7 linked regions of the Homo sapiens genome follow. The protein of the gene in region 7 purifies or fractionates together with the protein of the main gene of each other region. This does not show direct contact. Each region holds a gene or a part of one and is shown on either strand. Other genes may lie near its edges. The genes, in order: BSDC1, GLMP, RNF34, ADD2, BRAP, C9orf78 and SERPINB13.

Region 1 (4,073 bases), on a different chromosome or scaffold from region 7:
GCACCCTATCCCTGTCTGCTGGAAGGCATTCTGACCAGTGTGGTCTGTATAGTGACCCTCAGTTGGTCCCAGGCAAGGCAAGGCTATCTGTTCTAATCCTGCCCATATGTTTCCAACCTTTTGTACAAAGTATTCTACTTCCTGAGCAATGATGATGATGAAATTGCAGTATTACAATGCTGCAGTTTATTAAGCGTATGCTGTGTGCCAGGCATTGTCCATACCCTATCTTTTAATCTTCATGGTAACCCTATGAAGGATGTATACTTAACCCCATTTTATAATAAGGAAACTGAGGTTCAGAAAGGGTTTCGGTCTCATGACCAACAAGTGGTAGAGCAAGGATTCAAACCAGCTTTGTCTAACTCCGAAGCTAGTACCCTTTCCACCACTCTACCCATAGGCTCTCTTCCCTGTTGATGTGTCTATGGCATGGACCTTCTCTGGCCAAGTTTTGACCGGCCTGACTGACCTTGAAATTTTGATGAAACAGCCAATCAAAGATCTCTGATCTACACAGGCCTACCATGGCCCTGTTCTGCAGCCCCACTTGGGGGATGGAGGACCCTTGCCTCCTCCCTCTCCTGCAGCCCCAGAGACGGGTGAAGGGTCGTGAGCGCTTCCCTGGTCCCCCAACACACGGTACACCTTTGCCCCAATGTTTTACCCCCATACCCCAGATTGCAGCCTGTTCCCGGGGCGCTTGCTTCCTCTGCCCGTTCTCTATACAGACGGAAGGCTCCTCAGGAGCAACAGAGAAGATGAAGAAAGGGTTATCTGACTTCCTAGGGGTGATCTCAGACACCTTTGCCCCTTCGCCAGACAAAACCATCGACTGCGATGTCATCACCCTGATGGGCACACCGTCTGGCACAGCTGAGCCCTATGATGGCACCAAGGTATTCACTGACAGTCTCCCCTGCAGATGCCTAACATCTGTAACCTGGGCTTTAACTTCCATCCTGTACTCACAAAAGCAGCCCATGTTCAGGCCAAAAAATAAATATGGGTATATTATTAATAGTAAATCAGAAAATACCAGTAAGCAAGGACAGGATAATTATTTTTAAACTCACAATTGCATCACCCAAAGAGAACCCCTGATTTCTTATTGGTATATAACCTTACATTTGTTTTTGTTTATAAACATAGGTAAAGATAGTTTGGTTTTTTCTTCTGAACAAAAAAGACATTTTATACATGCAGTTTTGTAACCTACTTTTAAAAAATCAACAAACATAGCATCTTTCCTAATCATCTTTTTTTTTTTTTTTAATGAGACAGGGTCTCACTCTGTCACCCAAGCTCTCTCTGGGGCTCAGTGGCACAATCATGGCTCATTGCAGCCCCGACTTTCCAGGCTCAAGGGTCCTTCCACCTCAGTCTCCTGAGTAGCTGGGACCACTGGCGTGAACCACCACACCCAACTAATTTAAAAAAATTATTTTGGTAGAAACGGGGTCTCACTGTGTTGCCCAGGCTGGTCTCAAATGCCTAGGCTCAAGTGACTCCCAGCTTGGTCTCCCAAAGTGCTAGGATTACAGGAGTGAGCCACTGTGCCCAGCCAGCCATAATTTTTAATGTCTTTAAATTCTTACAAGTGAATATAGCATTATTTATTCCATTATTTCCTTCATGTTGCATATTTGGATTCCTTTCAGCTTTCAAGCATAATAAGGAACGCTGTGGAGAGCATTTTTAGAGGCATAATCTCCACATTTGGGTTATTTAGACTAATTTCTAGTAATACACGTATAGGTAAGGGGAGAGAGGTGTCTTCAGAGCACTTAAAGCAACAGCCACAGTAGCGTATTTTTGCTGCATTTTCTTTTCTTCTTCTTTTTTTTTTTTTTTTTTTTTTGAGACGGTCTCACTCTGTCACCCAGGCTGGAGTGCGGTGGCATGATCCCAGCTCACTGCAGCTTCAACTTCCTGGTCTCAAGTGTTCCTCCCACCTCAACCTCCCTAGTATCCCTAGTAGCGGGGACCACAGGCGTGCACCACCACACCTGGCCTTTTTTTTTTTTTTTTGTAGCGATGAGGTCTCCCTATTCTGCCTAGGCTGGTCTCAAACCCCTGGGCTCAAGTGATCCTCCTACCTCAGCCCCCTAAAGTACTGAGATTACAGGCGTAAGCCACCGCGCCTGGCCACATTGTATTTTCTATTTCATGGAGTGTTTTCTTCTAAATTCACAATATAATGTCATGGCAGTTGGGCCCTCTTCGTAGTTTTTTTGTTTGTTTTTTGTTTTTTGTTTTTTTTTTGAAATAGGGTCTCCCTCTGTCCCCCAGGCTGGAGTGCAGTGGTGCGATCACAGCTCATGGCAGCCTCGATCTCCTAAGGTGCTCCTCCCACCTCAGCCTCCTGAGCAGCTGGGACTATAGGCACACATCACCACGCTCAGCTAATTTTTATGCTTGTAGAAATAGGGTTTCCCCATGTTGCCTAGGCTGGCTTTGTAGCATTTTATCACATTGACTTCTGTTTTTTTTTTTTTTTTTGAGATGGAGTCTCTCTCTGTCGCCCAGACTGGAGTGCAGTGGAGCAATCTCGGCTCACTGCAACCTCCACCTCCTGGGTTCAAGCGATTCTCCTGCCTCAGCATCCTGAGTATCTGGGATTACAGGCGCACATCACCATGCCCGGCTAATTTTTGTATTTTTAGTAGAGATGGGGTTTCACCATGTTGGCCAGGCTGGTTTTGAACTCCAGACCTCCAGAGATCCACCTACCTTGGCCTCCCAGAGTGCTGGGATTACAGGCGTGAGCCACCGCACCCGGCCCACATTGAACTTTTGTTCCAAAAGTACTGATTTTTCAAGTATGTGTTTTAGCACTAGCATTAGCGCCACCACTTAGTGAACATGTGAGTGGAATTGTGAAAATGTTTGATAAGATTTTGAGCTATAACGACAGTGAATTATCACCAGACCGCTTACACATAGCCCATGCTTCCTGCAATACTGAGGAAGAAAGGTGGACTTTGTCTTTGCCAGCTAAGTTTGCCACCCTGTGATCCTAGTGGGAACGTAACTTGGTAGAGACTGGCTATACAATTAATAAATTCTTGAGTGGTTTTAATTTGAGGGAAATTGTGTTATTTTAAAATTTGTCCCTAAATTTTGACTTTATTAACATATTGGCACTAACATTTTTCAAATTTTACTTACTACAAAGCATTTTATACAAATAATTTTGTAGCCTGCTTATGCTGTATTTTCTTAGTTCTTGGGGTAGAATACTGGGTGAAAGGCCATTTTTCTGGGAACCCCAGTTTTGGATGCCTAGCCTAGTGCCCCACTCTCTGTGCCACAGTGCTAATTAACAGATGCCCTGGGGGTATCCCAGCCAACAAGGGAGAAGCTGGATTGTGGTTGACTGAGTATCCTGGCAGAGAAAGGGTGCTTTCTATGCCCAGTATCTCAGAATTTCTGTTTTCCTCTTCTCCTTTTCTTACAGGCTCGCCTCTATAGCCTGCAGTCGGACCCAGCAACCTACTGTAATGAACCAGATGGTGAGAGGGTAGCACTGAGCGGGTGGGCTTGTAGGGCAAGTAGACTAAGGGGGCTGGGTTGTAGACCCTGTTTGTCTCAGGTAGCAGAGGCCGGGCACCCCCTATGTAGGGAGACCAGAGTGAGACTAGTGTGTACCTTATACTTTGTGGGGTGGGTGGATGTTCTCTTTTCTTTCCTGAACTTGAGCTGTCCTGCCCACCCTGCAGGGACTTGGCCCCTCTCATCCCTCATCCTCAGCTCAGCCTCCCTCCCAGCCCTGCTGCCCCCCTTGCCTTCTCTTCAGCTCCTGTTAGCTAAGCCCCTGCCATGCAGCAAACCCCATTATGGGAACTGGAGATCAGAAATGAGCCAAACCCTCCACCTAGTCCAACCCTCCAGGAACTGGCAGTTAAGAGGGGGAAAGCAGAAACAGTCAATAAAGTAGAAATACTAGAGAGCAGCATGACTGCTTCTGCAGAGCAGCGGGGCAGCAGGAGCCAGAGGAATGGCACCCTTCCTGGCCTGGGAACCAAGCAAGTGATGCTGGAGTTGGGTTTTGTTTGTTTGTTTGTTTGTTT
Region 2 (4,059 bases), on a different chromosome or scaffold from region 7:
CCCCACCTGGGGGTCTCCAGGAAGTCGAGGCTGGCCTCTGAGGTTCCACAGAAAAGCAAGATGGGGGAGTGAAGGGGCCGGCTGGAACTTGATGCTCCAACCTCCAGAGTTTCGAGGCACAGCAAGACAGGTTCAGTAATGTCCTTCCCTCCAGAGAGCGGGCCTTAATTTATGGACTGGTACTCTGAGTACTTCTTGTGGTGCAGCAGCAGAACCAAGCCGCCCCCTAGCAGCATGAGCCCTGGGGCACCCAGGGCCACTGCCATGATGCCCAGGACTAGTGGGGACAAGCCGTCCACTGGAGGGAAGCCCACACCCAGGAGCATCGACCTAGAGCAAGCAGAGAGAGAGAGGTAAGCGGGCTTAGGAGGAAAGGCTGGGAGGCTCAGCCTTTGTCCACTTCAACTCCCCAAGTCCCCGGCCCAAACCCTGGCTCTCACCAGCTGAGGTAGTGTTGGTCCCAATAGCCAGGGCCTGTGGAAGCCCCGAACGTCAGATTGAAGGCACAGAAGTTATTCTGGGACCCAAAGAAGGCTCGGACAATGGGTGACTGGGGAAGAGAGTATGCTAAGGCAGGATGAAGAGGGGAAGCTTGGCAGGGCAGGGCTGATTCTCGGCCCCCCGGCTTCTGGGAGTAAGCCACTGGTCGCCACTGTGCAAAGCCTGATGGGAGGGAGCCCCACAGTAGCTGGTCCAACTGGGAAGAAAGGCAAACAAGGGAGGGTAAAGAGGACCAACCTGTGCCCGACCCTCTTTTCCTTGCCACTCCCAGCCTTATTCTGTGACTAGCAGCAGGAGTCCTGAGTCCTAGGCAGGGCCTCAATCCCTCCTCTGTAAAAATGGGGAGTTCGACTGGGTGAGGACTGAGTTGTTTTCCAAACCTCCAAGTCTGGACTCAGCCCTCCTCTTGGCCCCTAGCCCCCTTGCAGATCTCCATCTGCCAGAGTGTAAGTCATATTGCACTTTCTGTCTGTCTCCACTGAGGGCAGAGACTGGGTCAGATTCATTAGCACAGTGCCTAGCTCTTAAACGACCCAAAGAAAGTGTTGCTAAATGGCAAATGGTTGAATGAGTTTTAGGTCCCAATGGTGTCCCACCTACATTCCTCACCCATCTGCCTCTCTCCAGGAAGCCTGACCTGGAAGACGGCCGGTGCATATTCATCGTCGATGGAGTGCTGCTCCTGCATTGAGGGGCAGTCAGGGCCCTGGCCCAATGTGGCTACCTCCAGCCCAAACAGGGAACGGTTTCCCCGGGGAGAGGCTCCAATCAGGGCCACCTCTAGCTGACAGGTGTCTGCTGTGTGCAGGAGGCGAGGGGGTTGGGCTGGTCGGCTGGACCTGGAAAAGGCCTGGACCTAGGAAGGAAGAAGCATGGGAGGTGTGGGAAATAGCTGGATGCCTGTGCTTAAGGGCCACCTCCATCATTAAATCCCACCCTCACAAATCAGCCTTTTTGAGCTCTTTCCGATTTCTCACGCCTTACCCTGAAGGCCAGGCTGCCATTGGCAAAAGTCCTGGTAGGGTCGTTCATGGGGTGGCCTTGAAATGTGGCACTCAGGGTGGCAGGATCCAATGAATCAGTGATGTTGTTCCAAGAGAAATCGGCCAAGGAGTATGGAGGATATGGTCTTCCCAAAGGCTTTGCTGCCGTATCGGACACGTTGGTGCTGTCAAACTCAAGCAGCTGGAGGGTGGGGGTAGGGTGGAACTGGGCTTGCCTCAGTTTTTCTCCCGAGACCACACCTCCCACTCACCCCCTACCAAGGCTTTCATATCTGAGTCTATTTCACCCACCCCCAGTCTTTAGTTCCACCCTCTAATTGGGATGAACTCTCTCCTCTGCACTCTTCTCCTTGGTTCTCTCCCAACCTCCTCACCCTGGTAAAAACAAGGGCAGAAGAAAACTGAATGCTGTCCTTAGGGAGCACCATCAGGCCCCCATCGGGCTCAGGGGATAGCAGGAGGCTCCAGTTGACGCTCAGGGTGCTGTGGGGGGTGTTGGTGGCCACCATTACCACTGCCAGAGGCCCCAGGCTGCTCCACACATAGTGCAGTGTGGAATTGGTGCCCACTGCCCGTATATGAAGCAGGTTCTGCAGGGGGCCCAGCCAGTTAGGGATGACCTCCAGAGACACCTGGAACATGGAGTAGTGGAGGGTTGAGGGAACAGGACCAAGGAGAGACACAGGCAAAAGAGAAGCTTGAGGGGAGGGGGGCTTGGAAAGTGCTGGACAAAGGATGGGATTTTGGGGACTAGACAAGAGGAATGTGTGCGGGAGCTGAGGGAACCCTGGGGTAAGGGGCAGTGGGGACAGGATGAAAAGGGGTAGGGTAGAGGGTACAGCCAGGACTCCCCTGACCCTGGTGGGCGGGTCAGGGCACAGGGCTGCGAAGAAGAAAACATTCAACACTTGCCTGGACCTGGGTCACCCAGGGCTGAGTCGGGGTCCAGACATCACCCTCACATTTGCCCTACTCCACAATCCCGTCCCATGACCCATGACCATCTCCCACACCCTCCAGGTTGAAGAACCCTCCTCTTGGCAGCCACCCTCCACCCCTAGCCCCTGGATGCCCGGTTCCAGCCACCCTGCAAGGGTAGCGTTTCCTGAAACTTCTATCGCTGTAGCCCCAGGGCCCTCACCTGGCGGGTCTTCTCCCCCAGCAGGCCAAATGGGGCTGCAAACAGAAGTAGAGTCCAAAGGAGCAGGGGGCTGGGGGCACAGTGCCCCCAACCCCAGGTGCACTCCACAGAGCCGCGCATACGGCCGCAATTCAGCCGACGGAAGAGGTGCCAGAGGGTCACATGACTCGCGTTCAGCTGATCCCTTTCAAGGGCGGAGCCGCCAAACTATTTGCTTTTTAAAAAAATTTCCTTTCGTCAGCACCATTTAATGTATTAAAGAACAGCTTTGTATTCTATCTTAAAACAGGAAACGTCAGTCTCTTACAAGTAATACAATTTAATATGGTCACAAGATTTTAAGTGAAAAAAAAAACATTCATGCTACAAGTTTTCAGTTTTCCTTGGACAATGCCAAAAACACAGTATTCAAACGGCATGTTTTAAGAGGAACGTGAAATCTCATTTTGACACAAAGACAGGTTAAAGAAAATAAACCCAACAGGGAACTACTCCAGTACATTGCCTTAAGTTCCCAACCCTGTCCCATTGTGGAACTCATACACCTTCTTTCTACTCCAGCACATGAAACTCTGTGGTTCTTCTTCCCTGTGGAACAATGTGGTTCTTCTTCCCTGCCTAACATTTCAACAAAAATTGTAAATATTTAGAGATGTGTCACTAAATGACAACAACATACTTCCAAAAAAGCCAACTTATTTGTTAAATGTTGAAAGAAAAGGCCGGGCACGGTGGCTCACACCTGTAATCCCAGCACTTTGGGAGGCTGAGGCAGGTGGATCACAAGGTCAGGAGTTCAAGACCAGCCTGGCCAAGATGGTGAAAGCCCGTCTCTACTAAAAATACAAAAAATTCACTGGGCACGGTGGCAGGGCCCTGTAATCCCGGTGGCAGGCGCCTGTAACCCCAGCTACTCGGGAGGCTGAGGCAGGAGAATCACTTGAATCCGGGTAGTAGAGGTTGCAGTGAGCCAAGATTGTGCCACTGCACTCCAGCCTGGGCGACAAGAGCGAGACTCCGTCTCAAAAAAAAAAAAAAAAAAAAAAAAAAAAAAATATATATATATATATATATATATATATAGAGAGAGAGAGAGAGAGAGAGAGAGAGAGAGAGAAAGAAGGGGCTAGGCCGGGCACAGTGGCTTACGCCTGTAATCCCAACACTCTGAGAGGCCTTGGTGAGTGGATCACTTAAGGTCAGGAGTTAGAGACCAGCCTGACCAACATGGTGAAACCCCGTCTCTACTAAAAATACAAAAATTAGCCAGGTATGGTGGCAGGCGCCTGTAATCCTAGCTATTTGGGAGGCTGAGGCAGGAGAATCGCTTGAACCTAAGAGGCAGAGGTTGCAGTGAGCCGAGATTGCGACATTGCACTCCAGCCTGAGCAACAAGGGGCAAAACTCTATCTC
Region 3 (4,073 bases), on a different chromosome or scaffold from region 7:
AGTCATCAGTGATTACTAAAAATAAATGACTTGTTCTTGATAGTCTAATCCCTTTCCTACCCACTCTCTTAAGCCAAAGCTGCTCTCAGTAGAGCCACCATAGGACCATGGTCTGCCTGGCTTATATCAGTTAAAAACCAGGTATCGTATTTAAAAACTTAACACCAGCCCGGCGCGGTGGCTCACGCCTGTAATCCTAGCACTTTGGGAGGCTGAAGTGGGCGGATTGCTTGAGCTCAGGAGTTCGAGACCAGCGTGGGCAACGTGGTGAAACGCCATCTCTACTGAAATACAAAAAATTAGTCAGGCGTGGTGGCAAGTGCCTGTAGTCCCAGCCACTGGGGAGGTTGAGGCACAAGAATCACTTGAAATGGGAGGCGGAGGCTGCAGTGAGCTGAGATCACGCCACTGCACTCCAGCCTGGGCGACACAGCAAGAGTCTGTCTCAAACAACAACAACAACAACAACTTACACATTCCATAATAAGAAATCAAATTCTAAAACCTGCCTGGACTGCCTCAGACACCTAGATATCCTCATGTCATTCTGGTATCCAATGCCAGTTCTCCTCTTTTCTTCAAAGACAGTGCACCAAGATTTTAGGGAGCCAGTAACAGTACCTTTTTTCCACATCCAATTTGGAGCTAATTAAGAAATAAGACAGGCCGGGCACGGTGGCTCATGTAATCCCAGCACTTTGGGAGGCCGAGGCAGGCAGATCACAAGGTCAGGAGATCGAGACCATCCTGGCTAACATGGTGAAACCCCGTCTCTACTAAAAATACAAAAAATTAGCTGGACGTGGTAGCAGGCACTTGTAGTCCCAGCTACTCAGGAGGCTGAGGCAGGAGAATGGCGTGAACCTGGGAGGCAGAGCTTGCAGTGAGCCGAGATTGCACCACTGCACTCCAGCCTGGGCAACAGAGCAAGACTCCGTCTCAAGAAAAAAAAAAAAGAAATAAGACAGAGGCCGGACACGGTGGCTCACGCCTGTGATCCCAGCACTTTGGGAGGCCGAGGCAGGAGGATCATCTGAGGTCAGGAGTTCCAGACCAGCCTGGTCAACATGGTGAAACCCCGTCTCTACTAAAAATACAAAAATTAGCCAGGTATGGTGGTGGATGCCTGTAATCCTAGCTACTCAGAAGGGTGAGGCAGGAGAACTGCTTGAACCTGGGAGACGGAGGTTGCGGTAAGCAGAGATTGCACCACTGCACTCCAGCCTAGGTGACAGAGCAAGACCCTGTCTCAAAAAGAAAAAAAAAGCAAGAAGACAAATGGAAATTAAAATGTTTGTTTTTACTGATAGCATCAACTGGAGAACAGAACCTTAGCTCTGTAGCCAAGTCTGGATAATATACAGCTGACCAAGAGCAGCTTACCAGCTAGTTGAGTGGAGACCAGAACTCCATCTTCACTACAGGAAGACAAATGTGAGAAGGTCCCAGAAAGTACTGAGCCAAGCATGTCAGTTCCTTCACTGAAACTCCTCAATATTCAAGTCCCTCTTTTTCCTCCCATAGCAGAGACTGACAGTGTTTCTCCCATACTGTTCCCTCCCCAAAAATGAATTAGAAGCCCCCTCCCCTCTGTAGGAGCAAAGGAGAGGAAGCAAATGGGAGGGGAAAGAATACAAACCTAAATAATCTGCGTAAGAGTAGGAATGACAGTTTCCAGCCAATAAGGTTATAAGGACTCTCTCAGGTTCCTCAGTCAGAGTCAAACAATATAAGCCCATGAAACATCATTACAGTCAACAAAAGCAAGAGGAAAGGTGTTCTGTTTCTTTGCAAGAGCAGCAGCCCAGCTCTCTTTCTGGCACAGTGCCAGGATTTTCAAATGGCCTCAAGGTTCAGCTGTCTTTGCTTCTGTGTGTGTATAATCTAATATGTTTTCAGAATCCCTGTGGGGAGAAAATACTTCAAAATGCTCAATTTAAAGAATTCACAAATTTACCACAAATTTTCAACCCTAAACTTTTAATGATTCCATTAAATATATTATCAACCAGCCAGACTAGAACGAAGAATCAGAAAAGCTATGGTAGTTTCCATGAAGATTAAATGACAGGCTGGGCGCAGTAGCTCACACCTCTAATCCCAGCACTTTAGGAGGCCAGAATCACTTGAGGTCAGGAGTTCAAGACCAGCCTAGCCAAGATGGTGAAACCCGGTCTCTACTAAAAATACCAAAAAAAATTAGCTGGGTGTGGTGGTGCACAACTGTAGTCCCAGCTACACAGGAGGCTGAGGCAGGAGAATCACTTGAGGCGGAGACTGCAGTAAGCTGAGATGGTGCCACCGCACTCCAGCCTGGGCAACAAAGAGAGACTCCATCTCAAAAAAAAAAAAAAAAAAAAAAAAAGATTAAATGACAGCCAGACACAAGAGAAGTATAGGGGGAGAGTGGGAAAAGAAAGTTTATGAGTATGAAAACAGACAACTAGGCCAGGTGCCATGGCTCAAGCCTGTAATCCTAGCAGTTTGGGAGGCCAAGGCAAGTGGACTGCCTGAGCTCAGGAGTTTGGGACCAGCCTGGGCAACATTGTGAAACTCCGTCTCTACTAAATACGAAGAAAAAAAAAAAAAATTAGCCGGGCATGGCAGCTACTTGGGAAGCTGAGGCAGGAGAACTGTTTGAACCCGAGAGGCAGAGGTTGCAGTGAGCTGAGATCGTGCCACTGCACTCCAGCCTGGCGACAGAGTGAGATTCCATCTCAAAAAAAAAAAAAAGAAACAGAAAACTAAATGATCTAAGTCATTCACTTTTTATTAAACTAGGTAAATAGCAAGGTAATAATAATGCCATAGACTCTTCTCGTAAGAGTCTATCTTGCTTGCCAAAACTCTAATATGTTACTACACAGTCATTCACTTTTTATTAAACTAGGTAAATAGCAATGTAATAATAAACCCATAGACTCTTCTCATAAGCGTCTACCTTGCTTGCCATAACTCTAAGTTAAATATATTATTTACACAGTTATTTTAAGGATGAACCTAGAAGTTTTAAATTCAAAAATAATTGTCTCAGATGCTACATGAATCTACAAGGACCAAGGAGCGATACTGTTCTTCCATCAATGAAAGCTTCCTCAGAGAACTCACCCACTATATGTCCAGGGTTTGTTTCAAACTCTGGACAACCTTCAGTTTGCTAAAACTCAATGTCCTGTGTTAAACGACAGGAAAAAGATGTATTAAATCTTAGCAACGGTGATATAAAATAATCGGTTTTACAGTTTAATCTTGGTTAGGTTAAACTTTCCTACATAACTAAAAGCAAAGCAGAAAAAACAGTTGATAAAAAAGCAAAATCTTTATCCTTTTTTTTTTTTGTTTTGGTTTTTTTTTTTGGAGACAGAGTCTTGCTCTGTTGCCCAGGCTGGAGTGCAGTGGCGCAATCTTGGCTCACTGCAAACTCTGCCTCCCGGGTTCACGCCATTCTCCTGCCTCAGCCTCCAGAGTAGCTGGGACTACAGGCGCCCGCCACCACATCCAGCTAATTTTTTGTATTTTTAGTAGAGACAGGGTTTCACTGTGTTAGCCAGGATGGTCTCAACCTCCTGACCTTGTGATCTGCCTGCCTCGGCCTCCCAAAGTGCTGGGACTACAGGCGTGAGCCACCGCGCCCGGCCTCTTTATCCTATTTAGAGCCATTTGAGAAACATATGCTCCTTAGAATGTGAAAGGATTTCTTATCAAAACTGCTGCTTCAACTGAAATACAATATGCAGGGACCTAACTCTTTCTTAGTGACCAAATATCCGACCATATACCACAAAGGAAGGAATTCTACATCCTAAATTATTTCTCTCATACCATTTGGACATTAAGCAGGTTGCAAAAACAGATGATGAACTCTAAAATGTAATACTTTTAGACAAGACATTGGCCAAACTGATCGATTATTACAATAACATGTGCTATAGATACAAATGTTACCTTCCTCATGCTTGGGTTTTTGTTTTCTTTTAACAGTATACTTGATCCTTAGTACCACTCCCCCACCTTTCAGAGAAAAAAAAAGGAAAAGGAATTACATTCAGTAGATTACTTTCTCCTTGATATCT
Region 4 (4,073 bases), on a different chromosome or scaffold from region 7:
GAAATGTAAGCCCACTGAGCAAGACGGATCTGGTCACCTGGGGCCTTGACACTCTCCCTTGTAACTGGTGGATGGCAGAACCTGGCTTGTGTGTGGCAGTTTGGCTTGGTGCGGGGGGAGGTGGGACGGAGACAGGAGTCCCCCTCAGTTTCCTGTGCCCCTTCGGAGCCTCAGTTCCCAGTCTTCCCTCCTCACCAAAAGCTATGACAGTGAACGGACAAATCCATGTAAACTAGAGACCAGCAGGGTGCCAGGAGGAGGGCTTGGGGCTCCCTTTACTGAACACCACAAAGTAAGAACTTTCTGTCGGGACAAATGAAGCTTTGACATGAATGGGATGGGGCTGAGGAGAGCCTGGAAGCCCCAGGAGGTGGGCAGAGTGGAGGGCTCAGCCGGGCTGTGGGATGGGGTGTGGGAAGGGAAGGCAAGTCGGGATCACTCACATCCCTCCTTACTTGGGGCCAGTTGGTTCCTGCCTGGCATGGACACAGCTCCTCCTTGAGGCAGGTAGTGCCTTGAGAAGGCCGAAGGGTGGGCCCTGTGGACCACTGAAGGCAGAGGGAGATCACTGTGGTGGAGGCAAGAGGGGTCTGACTGAGGAAGAGCTTGGGGGGCCTCAGGAATCAGCCCATGATCCTAAGGATCGGGAAGCCCAGGGACAGAGTTGGCATCTCCAATTGCTTGCCAGGATGGGCTCGAGATGGGAGCCGCTCTGCCTTGGCCTTCTGGGCTCCAGAGAGCCAGGGCCTGTGCAGGGGCTGTGTGAGACCCTGGCTGGGAGCCATGGTGCATACTCAGGCCACACAGAGCAGCTCCAGGGAATGGGCCGAGGTCCAATATCTGTGCCCAGATATTGTGTTGGGGAGCTGGGAGGAATATGGCAGATGCTGAAAGCATTGGGGTGAAGAGCCTCTGGGAAAACCCCCAGAGTGTGACTAGGAGGGGTGGCAAGGGGGTTAGGAGAGGCGGCAGAGTTAGCACCAGCCCAGATTTCAGGGCTCAGGCAGTAAATAGGGGTTGGAGGAGGGCCTGCTTCCTTCTTCCCTTTTACAGGTTGGCCAACACACCTAAGTGGCCCCCCATTTCCTCCTGAGTGTTTTCTCCTGCCACCTGGTGGGCAGGATTCCTTGCTTATGGCTTCATGGTCTGAAAAGCCAGGCTTAGAGTTGGACATCAGGAGTGGAAGTGACCTCAGAGGTCATCAAATCTTCCTGTTCTTCCTCCTACCCTTTCATTAAGCACATGAGGAAACTGAAGCCCGAAAGAATCACAGGCATCGCTAATGGAGAGGGATGGTGGCTCTCTCCATTCAGTTCTGCCTAAAAAAATGTCCTTCATTACTAAAGTGAAGTCCTACCATGTCTGATGGTGGGGAGGGGTCTTGGCCCTCATTTAGACACAGAAAGGACCTGGAATCTGGATTACTGCCCACAGGGCAAGGGAACACAAGATCCATTCCCAGCATTTCTTTGTTGCTTCCCATACAGCAATTCCTGAGGTCCTAGTGGAACTGCTCAGTGTCCCCTGTAGCTGGGGACCCTGAGCATGGCCCTGACCTAGCTGACCCAGGGGCAAGGGGTGGGCACTTGGAAGAGCTCATTGTTGGGCAGCTGTGTGAGAGGCTGTGGGGGGACAAGCACCTCGGGGCCTGCTTCAGTCTTTCAGGGAGGAGCTGGAAGGCCTCATCCAGGAGCAGATGAAGAAGGGGAACAACTCCTCCAACATCTGGGCCCTGCGACAGATCGCGGACTTCATGGCCAGCACCTCCCACGCAGTCTTCCCGACATCTTCCATGAGTATGTGGTGTCTGGGGAGCTGCCAGGAGCAGAGGTGGAGGGGAGGGTGGGGTGGGGAAGAGAGGGAGGAGCAGCAAGAAGCATCTGGTTGCCAGGCTATGGAGTAAGCAGCCCATTGTGTTATCAGGCCTTGGGGAGCTCAGCAGCAGCCAGAGAGGTACCTGGCTCTGCTTCTGATGTTGCTGCAAATTAAACGTCCACAGAAAAATTACCCCAATGCCAGGAATAAGAGGGTGGAGGTGACTTCAGTGGACGGGAAGAGACCACTGAAGCCTGTGTTTCCATGCCCCACTAGACAGGCCAACCTGACTCCACAGATGAGGGCTGAGAGGAGCCAGCCAGGGCTATGCAGGAAGCCACCCTCCTGGGCTGTTATGCTCTGCCCATAACGTTTAAAACACAAGCATCAAAAAATAACTCCCCCTCAATAAGATTATTACAGGATTATGGCTGAAAACTGTGAAAATAACCAAGAAAGGGAAGCAGAAATCATTCTACTGTGTTCTTAAAGCCCTCATATTACTATTCTTAATATTTTGGTGAACATATATCCTTCCAGTCCTTTTTTTCTTAACATATATAGATTATGCAAACACAAATGTAATCACATAAAATATGGTTCTATAATATAATTTTTGGTGGATACATGCTATTTAATAAATTTCCCATTGTTGGACTTTTAGGTTATTTCCAACTTTTTCTGTTAGGAACAATGCAATAAACATCCTTGTAAATAAACCTGAGATTATATCCGTGATTATTTTCTTAAGATAAATTACTAGTAGAATTGCTGAATTGAAGTACATGCATGCATGTTTTAAAGACTTTAATGCAGAATGGCAGATTACATCCTTTCTCCAAATGGATCCAATTTACGTTCCCAACAGTAATGCGGTAGAGTGCCCATTTCCTCTACCCTGGTCCATAGTGTATACTACCATTTGTTTCATCCTCCTGATTCAGTAGGTGACAAATAATACTTTATTTGTGTTTTAATGTGCATTTGTTTGACTACTGATGAGGTTGGATATATTAATGTATTTTCACATACATATTGGACATGATTTTCTTCCTTTCTCTCTCTCTTTCTCTTTCTCTCTTTCTCTTTCTTTCGTTTTCTTTTCTTCTTCCTTTCCTTTCCTTTTTCTTTTCTTTCTTTTCTTTTCTTCTTCCTTTCCTTTTTCTTTTCTTTCCTTTCTTTCACGCAGAATCTCACTCTGTTGCCCAGGCTAGAGTGTAGTGGTGCAATCTCAGCCCACTGCAACCTTCCAGGCTCAAGCAATCCTCCCACTTCAGCCTGCCAAGTAGCTGGGACCACGGGCACGCACCACATGCCTGGCTAATTTTTGTATTTTTTGTGGAGACAGGGTTTCACCATGTTGCCCAGGCTGGTTTGGCACTTCTGGGTTCAAGTGATCCACCCACCCCGGTCTCCCAAAGTGTTAGCATTACAGACGTGAGCCACCGTGCCCGCCCCTGACTTTCTTTTTATAGTAAATTGCCTTTTTACATCCTTTGCCTATTTTCCTATTAGTGTATTATTTTCTTATAGATTTTTACATTTTTATAAAGTAAAGCTGTTTCTCTATTATCTGTCAAATATATTGCTTTTTTTTTTTCCAGTTTCTCCTTTGTCTTTTAGTTTTGTCCATGGCATTTTTTTTGTCTTGTAGAATTCTTTAGTTTCTGTGTAGCGGAAACCATTGTAATTTTCCTTTGTGTGTTCTGCTTTTGATTGCATGCTTAGAAATACCTTTCCCATGTTTCATCATCTGATGGAACAAATACCCTTAATTATGCATTTGTCAATTTTCCTCAACTGTTTGTACAAGTTTATTCTTTACAATAACTTTAGGCCAGGCACAATGGTTCATGCCTGTAATCCCAGCACTTTGGGAGGCCAAAGCAGGTGGATCACCTGAGGTCAGGAGTTTGAGACCAGCCCGGCCAACATGGTGACACCCTGTCTCTACTAAAAATATAAAAATTAGCCAGGCATGGTGTTGCATGCCTGTAATCCCAGCTACTTGGGAGGCTGAGGTGGGAGAATTGTTTGAACCCTAGAGGTGGAGGTTGCAGTGAGCTGAGATTGCACCACTGCACTCCAGTCTGAGTGACAGAGCAAGATTCCATCTCAAAAAAGCAAAAACAAAAATCAAACTTTAGAATTATTTTATCAAGTCCCCCCATTGACCTTAAAAATTCCTTTTGGGATTTTGATTGGGATTACATTAAACGAATAAATTGATTTGGTGAAGAATTTATAAATTTATAATT
Region 5 (4,073 bases), on a different chromosome or scaffold from region 7:
GCTTTTATTGAAAATGTTTGCATTGTGTGGACCCAAAACTTTAAATAAACCTGGCTTTTGTTTCCCTCTAGTCCTTTGGTTTTATTGTTCTCTTCTGAGGATTAACTCAGAAAAAGACAAATCCATTATGATCAAGTTCCTTCGCTGTCACAGGAATCAACTACAGTGTTGAGAACATACCTCTACTTCTCCAAGGAGGTGTCTGCTAAGGCTGTGGTAACTAAGCACGCAGGTGAAAAAAGCCAACATACTCTATTAAGTGGTCATCTGTCCTTTTCTGCCCCCAAGAACAACAAAATTGAACTTCCTTCTGCTTTTCCTATGTCCTGAAGAACTGTAAATTCTCTACCCAAAGACCAAGTTTCCTAAGGGTCACACTACAAATTGGTAAGCACACCCCCCCTTTTTTTTTGATCTTTTAAAAAAAATTTTTAAGAAACAGGATCTTGCCATGTTGCCCAGGCTGGTCTTGAACCCCTGGCCTTAAGCAATACTCCTGTCTTGGCCTCCCAAGGTGTTGGGATTACAGACATGAGCCACCACACCTGGCCTCACAACTCTTTCAGCTAAAGCTAAGGCCAACAGAAATTCAAAAATTACCAAAGATAAAGAGAAGGCTTATAAGTCCTTATTTAAAAATCTGTGGTGAGGAAAAGAATAAAAACATAGTTAGGTGCCCAGGCTATGGAGTCAGGCTGCCTAGGTTTGAACCCTAACTCTGACACCTACTAGCTGTTTGGCTGCAGGCAAGTGACTTATCTGTGCCTGTTTCCTCAACTGTAAAATACATGGCATTTTTTTTTTTGAGACAGAGTCTCGCTCTGTTGCCCAGGCTGGAGTACAGTGGTGTGATCTTGACTCACTGCAACCTCCACATCCCAGGTTCAATAGTTTCTCCTGCCTCAGCCTTTCAAGTGGCTGAGATTACAGGCGTGCGCCACCACATCCAGCTAAGTTTTATATTTTTAGTAGACATAAGCTTTTACCATGTTGGCCAGGCTGGTCTCAAACCACTGCCCTCAAGTGTTCCGCCCACCTTGGTCTCTCCCAAAGTGCTGGGATTAAAGGCATGAGGCACTGCACCTGGCCAACATGGCATCGTTGAGAGGATTCAAGGAGACAATGCATGGAAAGCACTTGGCACAGGGTCCGGTCTCTAGTAAGTGCTTCAGAGTTGGTAGCTACTGAGCCTATTATTCTCACTACAGCCGATATTAGTTTAACTTCCAGTCTTACACCAAGAGGGTATTATTAGGTATTAGAAAATCCCTGTTAGGATGATAGGGATTAGCCCCTAAGACCCAGAGTTAGCAATAAATAATACAACTCATGATACCAAGATAAAGGGTTCTAGCCCCATGGGGAAGAGCATGCAGCAACCTGTTTCGCAGTCTCAGAAAAACATGTCAACTTGAGCAACCTTCACTTGATCAAAAGACACAAGGGGAAGGATAGTGCAGATGTACAAGGAAAATTCATTCACAGTAAATATCCACAGTACTACCTGCACATTATGAAGGGCAGTACTTGTTATAGGGAACTGTGTGGGTTTATTAAACAGGTGACTGTGGTGGATTTATACGACTTCAGACTATTTCAAAAGCCTGAGTGCTCTTCAACATTTTTTTCCCAATCTATTTCTGGGTCTTTTCCTTTGTTACTTGCTTATTGCCCTAGTTGTTAAGTAGAAACTGTAACAATACTGCTGTCATAGAATGTCTCACAAACAACCGCCTCCCTTCCCCACACCTTCATCCCACTCCTACTAGAAGAGGAACGCGTCCCTGGAATTAAAAGTGAGGGTGCCACACTCTTGCTTGTCATTTATGTCTAGCTATGTAACCTTGGGCAAACCATGTATCTCCCTCTGCAGTCACCCTCCTCATCTGTAAAACAAAGATAACAACACAGTTTCCGCAAGGGATTGTAGTGAGGATTAAATGAGACAAAGTGTATTGAACACTTAGCACAGTGAGTGATACAGAAGCCATCGATAAACGTTGGATATTATCATCATTATCCTTATTATTACATGTGCTACCAGACTGAAATGGCTTAAGGCACGATTTTCCCATGGTTTGCAAAGCTCCTTGGCACCCTTGGAAGGCTTTCTGATGGACAGTGAAAGGAGCTATTCAAGTGCTTTTCTGTTCTTAATGTCAACTTGTAAACTTTAAATCCAAAGGATAATTGAAACCTTTTAAATGTCTCCCTAAATGATGGGGTACTTTGTAAACAGAAAACATAATAACTGTGTACTCTCTTGCAGACAGAACTCCACACTAAAGCTTCTCTCTGGAGATCACAGAACAGGTACACTCTTCCCCCACTAAAAAGAGAATGAGGCCGGGTGCAGTCGCTCACGCCTGTAATCCCAGCACTTTGGGAGGCTGGGGCGGGCAGATCACCTGAGGTCCAGAGTTTGAGACCAGCCTGACCAACATGGAGAAACTCCGCCTCTACTGAAAATACAAAATTAGCCAGGCATGGTGGTGCATGCCTATAATCCCAGCTACTCCGGAGGCTGAGGCAGAATGGCTTGAACCCAGGAGGTGGAGGTTGCTGTGAGCTGAGATCGTGCCATTGCACTCCAGCCTGGGCAACAAGAGTGAAACTCCGTCTCAAAAAAAAAAAAAAAAAAAATGAAAGAAGTGGGGGTAATGGAAAAATAATAAGATGGTGTTAACTTCAAAAAGTCTGGGAACCACCGCTTTTCTGGAATAGTTACCGCTTGTTTAAAAAAACAAACAGGCCGGGCATGATGGCTCACGCCTGTAATCCTAGCACTTTGGGAGACTGAGGCGGGTGGATCACAAGGTCAGGAGTTCGAGACCAGCCTGGCCAACATAGTGAAACTCTGTCTGCACTAAAAATACAAAAATTAGCCAGGCATGGTGGTGCATGCCTGTAGTCCCAGCTACTCAGGAGGTTGAGGCAGGAAAATCGCTTGAACCCGGGAGGCGGAGGTTGCAGTGAGCCGATACCACACCACTGCACTCCAGCCTGGGCGACAGAGCGAGAATTCGTCTCAAAAAGAAACAAACAAAAAAACACACTAGATTTTTTTTTTTTTTTTTTTTGAGACGGAGTCTCACTCTTGCCACCCAGGCTGGAGTGCAGTGGTGTGATGTCAGCTTTCTGCAACCTCTGCCTCCTTGCAAAACCCTAAACTTCATACTCAATCTGATCTATAAAAAATCATGGGCATGAGGCCAGGTGCAGTGGCTCAGAGCATCTGTAATCCTAGCACTTTGGGAGGCCAAGGCAGGAGGATTGCTTGAGGCCAAGAGTAGCCTGGAAAACACAGCAAGATCTCATCTCTACCGAAAAAAAAAAAAGTGTATACGTTATAATTGTATTTCTGCTAATGAATTTAGAAATACATCTAGAATTACAATTATATCTTAGAAGACATCTCAAGAATCTTAAGTGCAAAATGTTGTAAATCACACACAGCTATCATACAGTTTGAATACCACAGTTTCTGTGGCAAAGAGATTTTTAATAAATTTAATAACTTTTACCTGTGCACGAAACTTTATCAGCACCATATATTGGTTGGGAGTAGAGTCTCTGATAATTTTCATTTGTTCAATTACTTCGTTAAATGGGGCAACAAACTTCATAAGGTCATGACTGGTCATTGCAGCAGGGACTGTGAGAATACACAGCATGGCACTGCGCCGCACATCTTCTTTTAAGGAGGTCATCTTACTAACAAAAAAAAAATTAGAGTGTCTTGAATAGATGAGGTATGGTTAGTTTAAACAATACTAGACAACTTTTATGTCCAAGAAAACAGGAAAAAATAAAAATTGTAATATTTCATTAATGAACTGTTCTATATTATACCCCCCATTGGACTTTTTAATCTTCAGTTCAACATTTATTACGGTTATAAATCTGCATTCGGTAAATTTGCAGTGTTTTACTCTCATCAATGTTTGAATAATAATCTGTCACTGGTGGCCAGGCACAGTAGCTCATGCTCGTAATCCCAGCACTTTGGCAGGCCGAGGCGGGTGGATCACGAGGTCAGGAGATCGAGACCATCCTGGCTAACACGGTGAAAC
Region 6 (3,316 bases), on a different chromosome or scaffold from region 7:
AAAATTAAAAAAATAAAAGTTTACTGTGTACTTTTGTGACAACTATATAGCATTTACATTGTATTTGGTATTATAAGTAATCTAGAGATGATTTAAAGCAGATGGTAGTGTGTGTGTAGGTTAGATGCAGATATTATACTATTTTATGTAAGGGACTTCACTATCTGCAGATTTTGGTATCCTTGAGGGACACTAGAACCAATCCCCCATGGATACCTAAGGATAAGTGTATCCACTCAATCCTTGGAGGTATCACTAGCAGCCAACAGTTTGCTTGCATATATTTCTAGAGTTTCTTTTCTTTACATATACTACGGCATTTTTTTTTTTTTGCCAACTGTAAATAGGATATTATAAATGCTTATGTCTTTGTTTTCTTCTTAGAACATAAAACTCAGCCTCATTGAGTTGTGACTTGAAAGCTCTGCCTCATTGTTCTCTCCCTCCAGGATCAGTGAGGAGGAGGACCTGCACCTGGGGACATCGTTTTCTGCAGAAACCAACCGAAGGGATGAGGATGCAGACATGTAAGTGTCAGTCTGTTTGGCTGTGAGCAGTTGGGGCTGGACTCCAGTCAGAGTCCAAGATATTTAGTCAACAGATGACATTTCTAGAATTTTCTAGAAGATGTCAAAGTTGGCCCCTCTCTTTCTACTTCCCAGCTTAAGAACTTTGAAAACCTCTTAAAAGGTCTTTTCAGGCCGGGCACGGTAGCTCTCACCTGTAGTCCCAGCACTTTGGGAGGCCGAGGCAGGTGGATCATCTGAGGTGGGGAGTTCGAGACCAGACTGACCAACATGGAGAAACCCCGTCCCTACTGAAAATACAAAATTAGCTGGGTGTGGTAGTGGGCACCTGTAATCCCAGCTACTCGGGAGGCTGAGGCAGGAGAATTGCTTGAACCTGGGAGGCAGAGCTTGCGGCGAGCCAAGATCTCGCCATTGCACTCCAGCCTGGGCAACAAGAGTGAAACTCCGTCTCCAAAATATAAAAAATAAAAACTTGTTTTCAAAGGTGGTTTCATGACTAGTAATATTTCCCCAAAACATTGCAGGGATAAAACATGGGCTTGCCCACTTTTTATTTTGCCAACAAAGCTATTGGCAAACTATCATCTTTCTGTCTTCAAAGAACCTTGTACATCATAACACCAATAGATTAGTGGGACATAACCTCATAGGTTGGTGCTTCTTTAGAAAATTTCTAACTTGATGAAAAAACTCAAGTTATTTTTTTTCTCGTTTCTCCATGGACTGTCACTGGTCTGCGGGCCAGTGTTGGGGACCACTGATTTAGAGGACACCTGGTGTGTGTTTCCCACCCCTCCCTGAGGCCTCTGGGTTTCTCACTTCAGGATGAAGTACATTGAGACAGAGCTAAAGAAGAGGAAAGGGATCGTGGAACATGAGGAACAGAAAGTTAAGCCAAAGAATGCAGAGGACTGTCTTTATGAACTTCCAGAAAACATCCGTGTTTCCTCAGCAAAGAAGACCGAGGAGATGCTTTCCAACCAGATGCTGAGTGGCATTCCTGAGGTGGACCTGGGCATCGAGTATGTTTGAGACCCCTAGGCAGAAGACACAGTGCTTTCCAGTTAAAAGTTATGGGGGACAGGCCAGGCACGGTGGCTCATGCCTGTAATCCTAGCACTTTGGGAGGCTGAGGCGGGTGGATCACGAGGTCAGGAGTTCAAGACCAGCCCGGCCAAGATGGTCGAACCCCGTCTCTACTAAAAATACAAAAATTAGCTGGGCATGGTGGCAGGCACCTGTAGTCCAGCTACTTGGGAGGCTGAGGCAGGAAATTGCTTGAACCCTGAAGGTGGAGGTTGCAGTGAGGCGAGATCATGCCACTGCACTCCAGTCTGGCGACAGAGCAAGACTCCATCTCAAAAAAAAAGGAAAAAAAAATTTATGGGGGACAGGTATGGTGGCTGATGCCTATAAGCCTATAATCCCAGTACTTGGGAGGCCAAGGCAGGAGGATCACGTGAGGCCAGGAGATCAGCCTGAGAAATATAGTCAGACTCCTGTCTCTCAAAAAAATTTAAAAAATTAGCTGGGCTGTCACTTGAGCTCAGGAGTTGAGGCTACAGTGAGCCATGATTGCACCACTGCACACCAGTCTGGGTGACAGAGTAAGACCCTTTAAAAAAAAAAAAAAAAGGCCAGACATGGTGACTTGTGCCTGTTATCCTAGCTCTTTGGGAGGCCAAGGTGGGAGGATCACTTGAGCCCAGGAGTTCAAGACCAGCCTGGGCAATGTAATGAGACCCCATGTTCTTATCTGTGTCCTTAGAATCCTACAAATACAAATGAGATTGTCCCTGGCAGGTTGTTGCTAGAAGTTTCGCTGAAGGCTTGATCAGAGTAGTAAGGGCCCCTGACTGCTGGAAGCAAAAGTGGTTCTTTAGCGTGTTACAGCTGTTCAGCTGTATCAGGCCCTTTATTCTTCTGTTTTCTTCTAGCAGGAGCCATGTTAAAGGCTCACTCACCCCTTCTCCCCATGATCCTTCTTAAAATATCCACTTTAAAAGGGAATTGTTATGGAAGAGGTACAATTGTTAGAATAATCTTCTGGTACAGTAGAAAGCTGGGAGGCTTCTGGGCTCTTTTCTGGCCTTTACAAACTTTGAGCCTTAAGCATTTTACTTCTCTGAAGCTCAATTTGCTCTTGATCAGAAGAGCAGAGTAACTGTGGTTCTCCGACAGCCGTGAGAGTCCCGTGAGAATGTGACTACAAGTGTGCTTGATAAAGTGGAGAGCTGTGCCCCAGGACACATGATTTTCTTATGTACTGCTGGGCTGCCAGCCTCACCACTCATGTCTGAGTAGTAAGGTGCTATCATCTTCTAAGTGGTGTGGTTTCTTTCTCTCCATAGTGCTAAAATAAAAAATATCATTTCCACGGAGGATGCCAAGGCCCGTCTGCTGGCAGAGCAGCAGAACAAGAAGAAAGACAGCGAGACCTCCTTCGTGCCTACCAACATGGCTGTGAATTATGTGCAGCACAACAGATGTAAGCCCCTCGGAGAGCAGTCTTGCCCCCATTCCCCTATTTGGGCTGAGATCCCTAGGAACCTCATGTTCTAACGTGTCCCCTGGTCTCTTTGGGTCCAGTTTATCATGAGGAGCTCAACGCGCCCATACGGAGAAACAAAGAAGAGCCCAAGGCCCGGCCCTTGAGAGTAGGTGACACGGAGAAGCCAGAGCCTGAGCGTGAGTGCAACAAAGGCCTCGGGGCTGCCTGGAGTGCTCAGCAATGTGGGAACCCATGGAGGCAGGATGCAGCGGGGGACAGGGTGGAGCCTGGCATT
Region 7 (4,073 bases):
CTGGTATGGGAAATCCACAGAGAAATGTTAATGTGGAAATTCACCTTGGGGAGCAATAGCTGATACTTTAGTGTTAGAGTTTCAGATTCCATTTTTATACCAATTATCAGAGAGAACTTTGTTATTCAGAATGTGTTTTTTTTTTCCCCTCATGCTTGGTCTGAAGAAAGGAAATAAAAGAAACAGAAAAAATAGGATCTTTCAAAAAGTTGAACAGTATTTTTTAGAATTTATTGTGGGATGGGGTGAACTCAGAGACAAAAATATCAACTCCTTCTCCAATATAATAAGTAATCCCTTAATCTCAGGTGGTAACTATATTGAATGGTAAGCATAATAGCTAACACAGAGTGCTTATTATGTGTGAGATGGTATTCTAATAGCTTTACATGTGTTAAATCATTTGTTCCTTTCAACAACCCTATGAGGCAGATTTTATTCCTATTTTACAGATGTGGAAACTGAGGCACAGAGAGTTTAAATAACTTGCCCAAGATTCCTCAGCTGATAAGAGGCAAACTGGATGCTAACAGAGGCATCTGACCCCAGAGTCTGGACTCTTAACCATGAACCTTAATTTATCCACTGGGATAAATAGGCGATGGGCAAAATGAGAACCTCCCCGTCGATTCTGCCAGCAAACCCTTTGTCAGCAAGGCCCTCAGGTGCTGACCTGGCTGGGTTTTTAATGATCAGTCAAGTCCATCTGCATCATATTTGTCATACATATTATTTGTCATTTGGAAGATGGGTCAACCTTTTTCTGTTTCTTCATTTGCAGAAAAAATCAAGGACTTGTTCCCAGATGGCTCTATTAGTAGCTCTACCAAGCTGGTGCTGGTGAACATGGTTTATTTTAAAGGGCAATGGGACAGGGAGTTTAAGAAAGAAAATACTAAGGAAGAGAAATTTTGGATGAATAAGGTATGGCCCTTAGTTTATTTTCGTGATGTGCTTACACATGGAATGTAAAGTCTAAAGTCATGGCTGGGCGTGGTGGCTGACACCTGTAATCCCAGCACTTTGGGAGGCCAAGGTGGGTGGATCATGAGATCAAGGGATCGAGACTATCCTTGCCAACATGGTGAAACCCCGTATCTACTAAAAACATAAAAATTAGCTGGGTGTGGTGGTGCACGCCGGTAGTCCCAGCTACTTGGGAGGCTGAGGCAGGACAATTGCTTGAACCCGGGAGGCAGAGGTTGCAGTGAGCCAAGATCATGCCACTGCACTCCAGCCTGGTGACAGAGTGAGACTCCATCCCCCACCCCCCCAAAAAAATCTAAAGTCATATTTGAGCAAATGCATACTGGTAGATAGTGGATGCTCATTCTGAGACTCTGATATTGGGTTTTATTTTAGATTGAGCTAATTATTTTGATGAACTAACTTGGTTGCCTTAATGCCTTTGGTCTTATGTCCTTTGATATTGTGTGCTCTGTTAATTTGTTGCAGAGCACAAGTAAATCTGTACAGATGATGACACAGAGCCATTCCTTTAGCTTCACTTTCCTGGAGGACTTGCAGGCCAAAATTCTAGGGATTCCATATAAAAACAACGACCTAAGCATGTTTGTGCTTCTGCCCAACGACATCGATGGCCTGGAGAAGGTAAACGCTTACACCTCCTTATTCTTTCTTTCATTTCCTAAGGCTTTTTGTCTCAGGGCTTCTGAGTAGGAGCTGGTGGCCAGCAGTGTCAAATAGAAAGTGTTTCTCACTCTCCAGCAGCTACAGATGGATGTCTACTGGGGAGCATTAAATAGTATGGGTCAGGTTTATTGAGAACAACTAATCCTAGAATGTTTGGGATGAACTAAAATGAACATTTAAGATTATATGGGAGTCCTAACGATCACCCACCATTCTGAGAAATGGTTGGTATCTATGGACCCCTTTCCTGGAAAAAAGAAATCACATATGCATATATACAACCAGTTCTGCACACTGTTCAATAGGCTTTTGGAGCTTTTGAATTTCTTTCTTACACTCTTACACCATTGATTTAGTCTCATCCATTCTGTGGTTAAAAAAATTATGTGAAGGCCGGGCGTGGTGGCTCACGCCTGTAATCCCAGCACTTTAGGAGGCTGAGGCGGGCGGATCACGAGGTCAGGAGATCGAGACCATCCTGGCTAACACGGTGAAACCCCGTCTCTACTAAAAATACAAAAAATTAGCCTGGCGTGGTTGTGGGCGCCTGTAGTCCCAGCTACTCGGGAGGCTGAGACAGGAGAATGGCGTGAACCTGGGAGGTGGAGCTTGCAGTGAGCCGAGATAGCGCCACTGCACTCCGCCTGGGTGACAGAACGAGACTCTGTCTCAAAATTAAATAAATAAATAAATAAATAAATAAATAAATAAATAAATAAATAAATTGTGGCTAGTGTCCTGTATTTTGAAAATGAGGAGAGTTTTGTTTCAAATCCCTGTTCCTCTAGTGGCTTTCTGACCCTTGAAGCTTCTTAACTTCCTTGAACTTCAATACTTTCCCATCTCTGAAGAGGGCTCCATGGTGGTTAACGTGCAGCAGTGTTGGAATGATTAGAGAAACGTAGCCTAGAAGGGGTCTAGGACATAGAAAGCACTCAAATGATAACTGCTATCGTCTTATACTACCAGATGCTGTGCTACTTCTGTGAAATATTGCTAGTAGCATTTTAAGTTGGAAAATATTTTGAGACAGCAAAATAGCAATATGTCTGAGAGCTTTAAGAGTATTTCTGATTCAAAAACCCCAGTTGTGGGAATTACTCTAAAGAAATAATGCAGAAGAAAAAAGTTGCCTTTCTGAGTAAAATCAGTTATTTCGGTATTAAATACACTGGAATGCCCAGTTTGAAATTCATCGTAATTATTATTTTGTATCCTTAGTAACTATCAAATCTATCACAATGCCTGATAAAGACTAAATGTTTGTAAAGTGAATGAATAGCTAAATATTGGGAAAAATTTATCAACTTCATAAGAATATTATCTAGCTGTTTGAAGATAGGAGAGATATGCAATATTGTGAAAAAGTTTACTTTTTATCAAATAAAATGGACATTCACTGTGATTGCAACTATGTAAATATATATGCATTCAAAGACTAGGAGAGATAGTTAAAATGAAATATATACTAGGTTGATAAAATAAGAAATGACTTATTTTTAATCTTTAAAAATGTATTCAATGCTATTGGATTTCCACATATACACAGATAATTTAAACAGAGAGATATAAGACAACCGCCTGCAGTATAAAGACAACAATCTAGTGAAATAAAATTTCTACTTTTAATATTACTAAAATTAATAACTTCTGACTGACACAAATCAGTGTTACACTGTTTTAGATTTTTATTGATAATCATGCCATTCTACTCTTCTTTTTTTGAAAATAGATAATAGATAAAATAAGTCCTGAGAAATTGGTAGAGTGGACTAGTCCAGGGCATATGGAAGAAAGAAAGGTGAATCTGCACTTGCCCCGGTTTGAGGTGGAGGACGGTTACGATCTAGAGGCGGTCCTGGCTGCCATGGGGATGGGCGATGCCTTCAGTGAGCACAAAGCCGACTACTCGGGAATGTCGTCAGGCTCCGGGTTGTACGCCCAGAAGTTCCTGCACAGTTCCTTTGTGGCAGTAACTGAGGAAGGCACCGAGGCTGCAGCTGCCACCGGCATAGGCTTTACTGTCACATCCGCCCCAGGTCATGAAAATGTTCACTGCAATCATCCCTTCCTGTTCTTCATCAGGCACAATGAATCCAACAGCATCCTCTTCTTCGGCAGATTTTCTTCTCCTTAAGATGATCGTTGCCATGGCATTGCTGCTTTTAGCAAAAAACAACTACCAGTGTTACTCATATGATTATGAAAATCGTCCATTCTTTTAAATGTTGTCTCACTTGCATTTCCAGTCTTGGCCATCAAATCAATGATTTAATGACTCCAATAATGTGTGTGTTTATAACCATCCTCGAAAGTGAAATGTCCTTTTCTTTGTGCCATGCGTAAGGTGAGTCAAACCAAACCTCATTGATAATCTCCCTTTGGTTTCCTTTGAAAGTAAATTGGTATCTTGTAGTTTT

Evidence for each region.
Region 1: the proteins of SERPINB13 (region 7) and BSDC1 purify together in Homo sapiens (affinity purification with mass spectrometry; 2 studies listed by BioGRID and IntAct, with this or other methods). This does not show direct contact.
Region 2: the proteins of SERPINB13 (region 7) and GLMP purify together in Homo sapiens (affinity purification with mass spectrometry; one large-scale study listed by BioGRID and IntAct). This does not show direct contact.
Region 3: the proteins of SERPINB13 (region 7) and RNF34 purify together in Homo sapiens (affinity purification with mass spectrometry; 2 studies listed by BioGRID and IntAct, with this or other methods). This does not show direct contact.
Region 4: the proteins of SERPINB13 (region 7) and ADD2 purify together in Homo sapiens (affinity purification with mass spectrometry; 2 studies listed by BioGRID and IntAct, with this or other methods). This does not show direct contact.
Region 5: the proteins of SERPINB13 (region 7) and BRAP purify together in Homo sapiens (affinity purification with mass spectrometry; 2 studies listed by BioGRID and IntAct, with this or other methods). This does not show direct contact.
Region 6: the proteins of SERPINB13 (region 7) and C9orf78 purify together in Homo sapiens (affinity purification with mass spectrometry; one large-scale study listed by BioGRID and IntAct). This does not show direct contact.

The regions. Positions count from the first base shown.
Region 1 is NC_000001.11:32,380,656-32,384,728, reverse strand, and holds part of BSDC1 (BSD domain-containing protein 1), read left to right. Parts: intron 1-680; coding exon of another isoform or gene 681-731; coding exon 732-899; intron 900-3,460; coding exon 3,461-3,515; intron 3,516-4,073.
Region 2 is NC_000001.11:156,292,880-156,296,938, forward strand, and holds the start of GLMP (glycosylated lysosomal membrane protein isoform 1 precursor), read right to left. Parts: upstream 2,801-4,059; 5' UTR 2,767-2,800; coding exon 2,647-2,766; exon of another isoform or gene 2,418-2,646; intron 2,138-2,417; coding exon 1,880-2,137; exon of another isoform or gene 1,797-1,879; intron 1,687-1,796; coding exon 1,486-1,686; intron 1,358-1,485; coding exon 1,139-1,357; intron 832-1,138; exon of another isoform or gene 739-831; intron 698-738; coding exon 441-697; intron 331-440; coding exon 165-330; coding exon of another isoform or gene 133-164; 3' UTR 1-132. UniProt on the Homo sapiens protein: Required to protect lysosomal transporter MFSD1 from lysosomal proteolysis and for MFSD1 lysosomal localization.
Region 3 is NC_000012.12:121,402,680-121,406,752, reverse strand, and holds part of RNF34 (E3 ubiquitin-protein ligase RNF34), read right to left. Parts: intron 4,012-4,073; exon of another isoform or gene 3,955-4,011; coding exon of another isoform or gene 3,946-3,954; intron 1,905-3,945; exon of another isoform or gene 1,640-1,904; intron 1-1,639. UniProt on the Homo sapiens protein: E3 ubiquitin-protein ligase that regulates several biological processes through the ubiquitin-mediated proteasomal degradation of various target proteins.
Region 4 is NC_000002.12:70,702,044-70,706,116, reverse strand, and holds part of ADD2 (beta-adducin), read left to right. Parts: intron 1-1,657; coding exon 1,658-1,796; intron 1,797-4,073. UniProt on the Homo sapiens protein: Membrane-cytoskeleton-associated protein that promotes the assembly of the spectrin-actin network. Binds to the erythrocyte membrane receptor SLC2A1/GLUT1 and may therefore provide a link between the spectrin cytoskeleton to the plasma membrane.
Region 5 is NC_000012.12:111,675,627-111,679,699, forward strand, and holds part of BRAP (BRCA1-associated protein), read right to left. Parts: intron 3,715-4,073; coding exon 3,525-3,714; intron 1-3,524. UniProt on the Homo sapiens protein: Negatively regulates MAP kinase activation by limiting the formation of Raf/MEK complexes probably by inactivation of the KSR1 scaffold protein.
Region 6 is NC_000009.12:129,829,107-129,832,422, reverse strand, and holds part of C9orf78 (splicing factor C9orf78), read left to right. Parts: intron 1-449; coding exon 450-527; intron 528-1,354; coding exon 1,355-1,552; intron 1,553-2,881; coding exon 2,882-3,018; intron 3,019-3,119; coding exon 3,120-3,218; intron 3,219-3,316. UniProt on the Homo sapiens protein: Plays a role in pre-mRNA splicing by promoting usage of the upstream 3'-splice site at alternative NAGNAG splice sites; these are sites featuring alternative acceptor motifs separated by only a few nucleotides. May also modulate exon inclusion events.
Region 7 is NC_000018.10:63,593,574-63,597,646, forward strand, and holds part of SERPINB13 (serpin B13), read left to right. Parts: intron 1-452; exon of another isoform or gene 453-601; coding exon of another isoform or gene 602-665; intron 666-781; coding exon 782-924; intron 925-1,455; coding exon 1,456-1,611; intron 1,612-3,385; coding exon 3,386-3,790; 3' UTR 3,791-4,073. UniProt on the Homo sapiens protein: May play a role in the proliferation or differentiation of keratinocytes.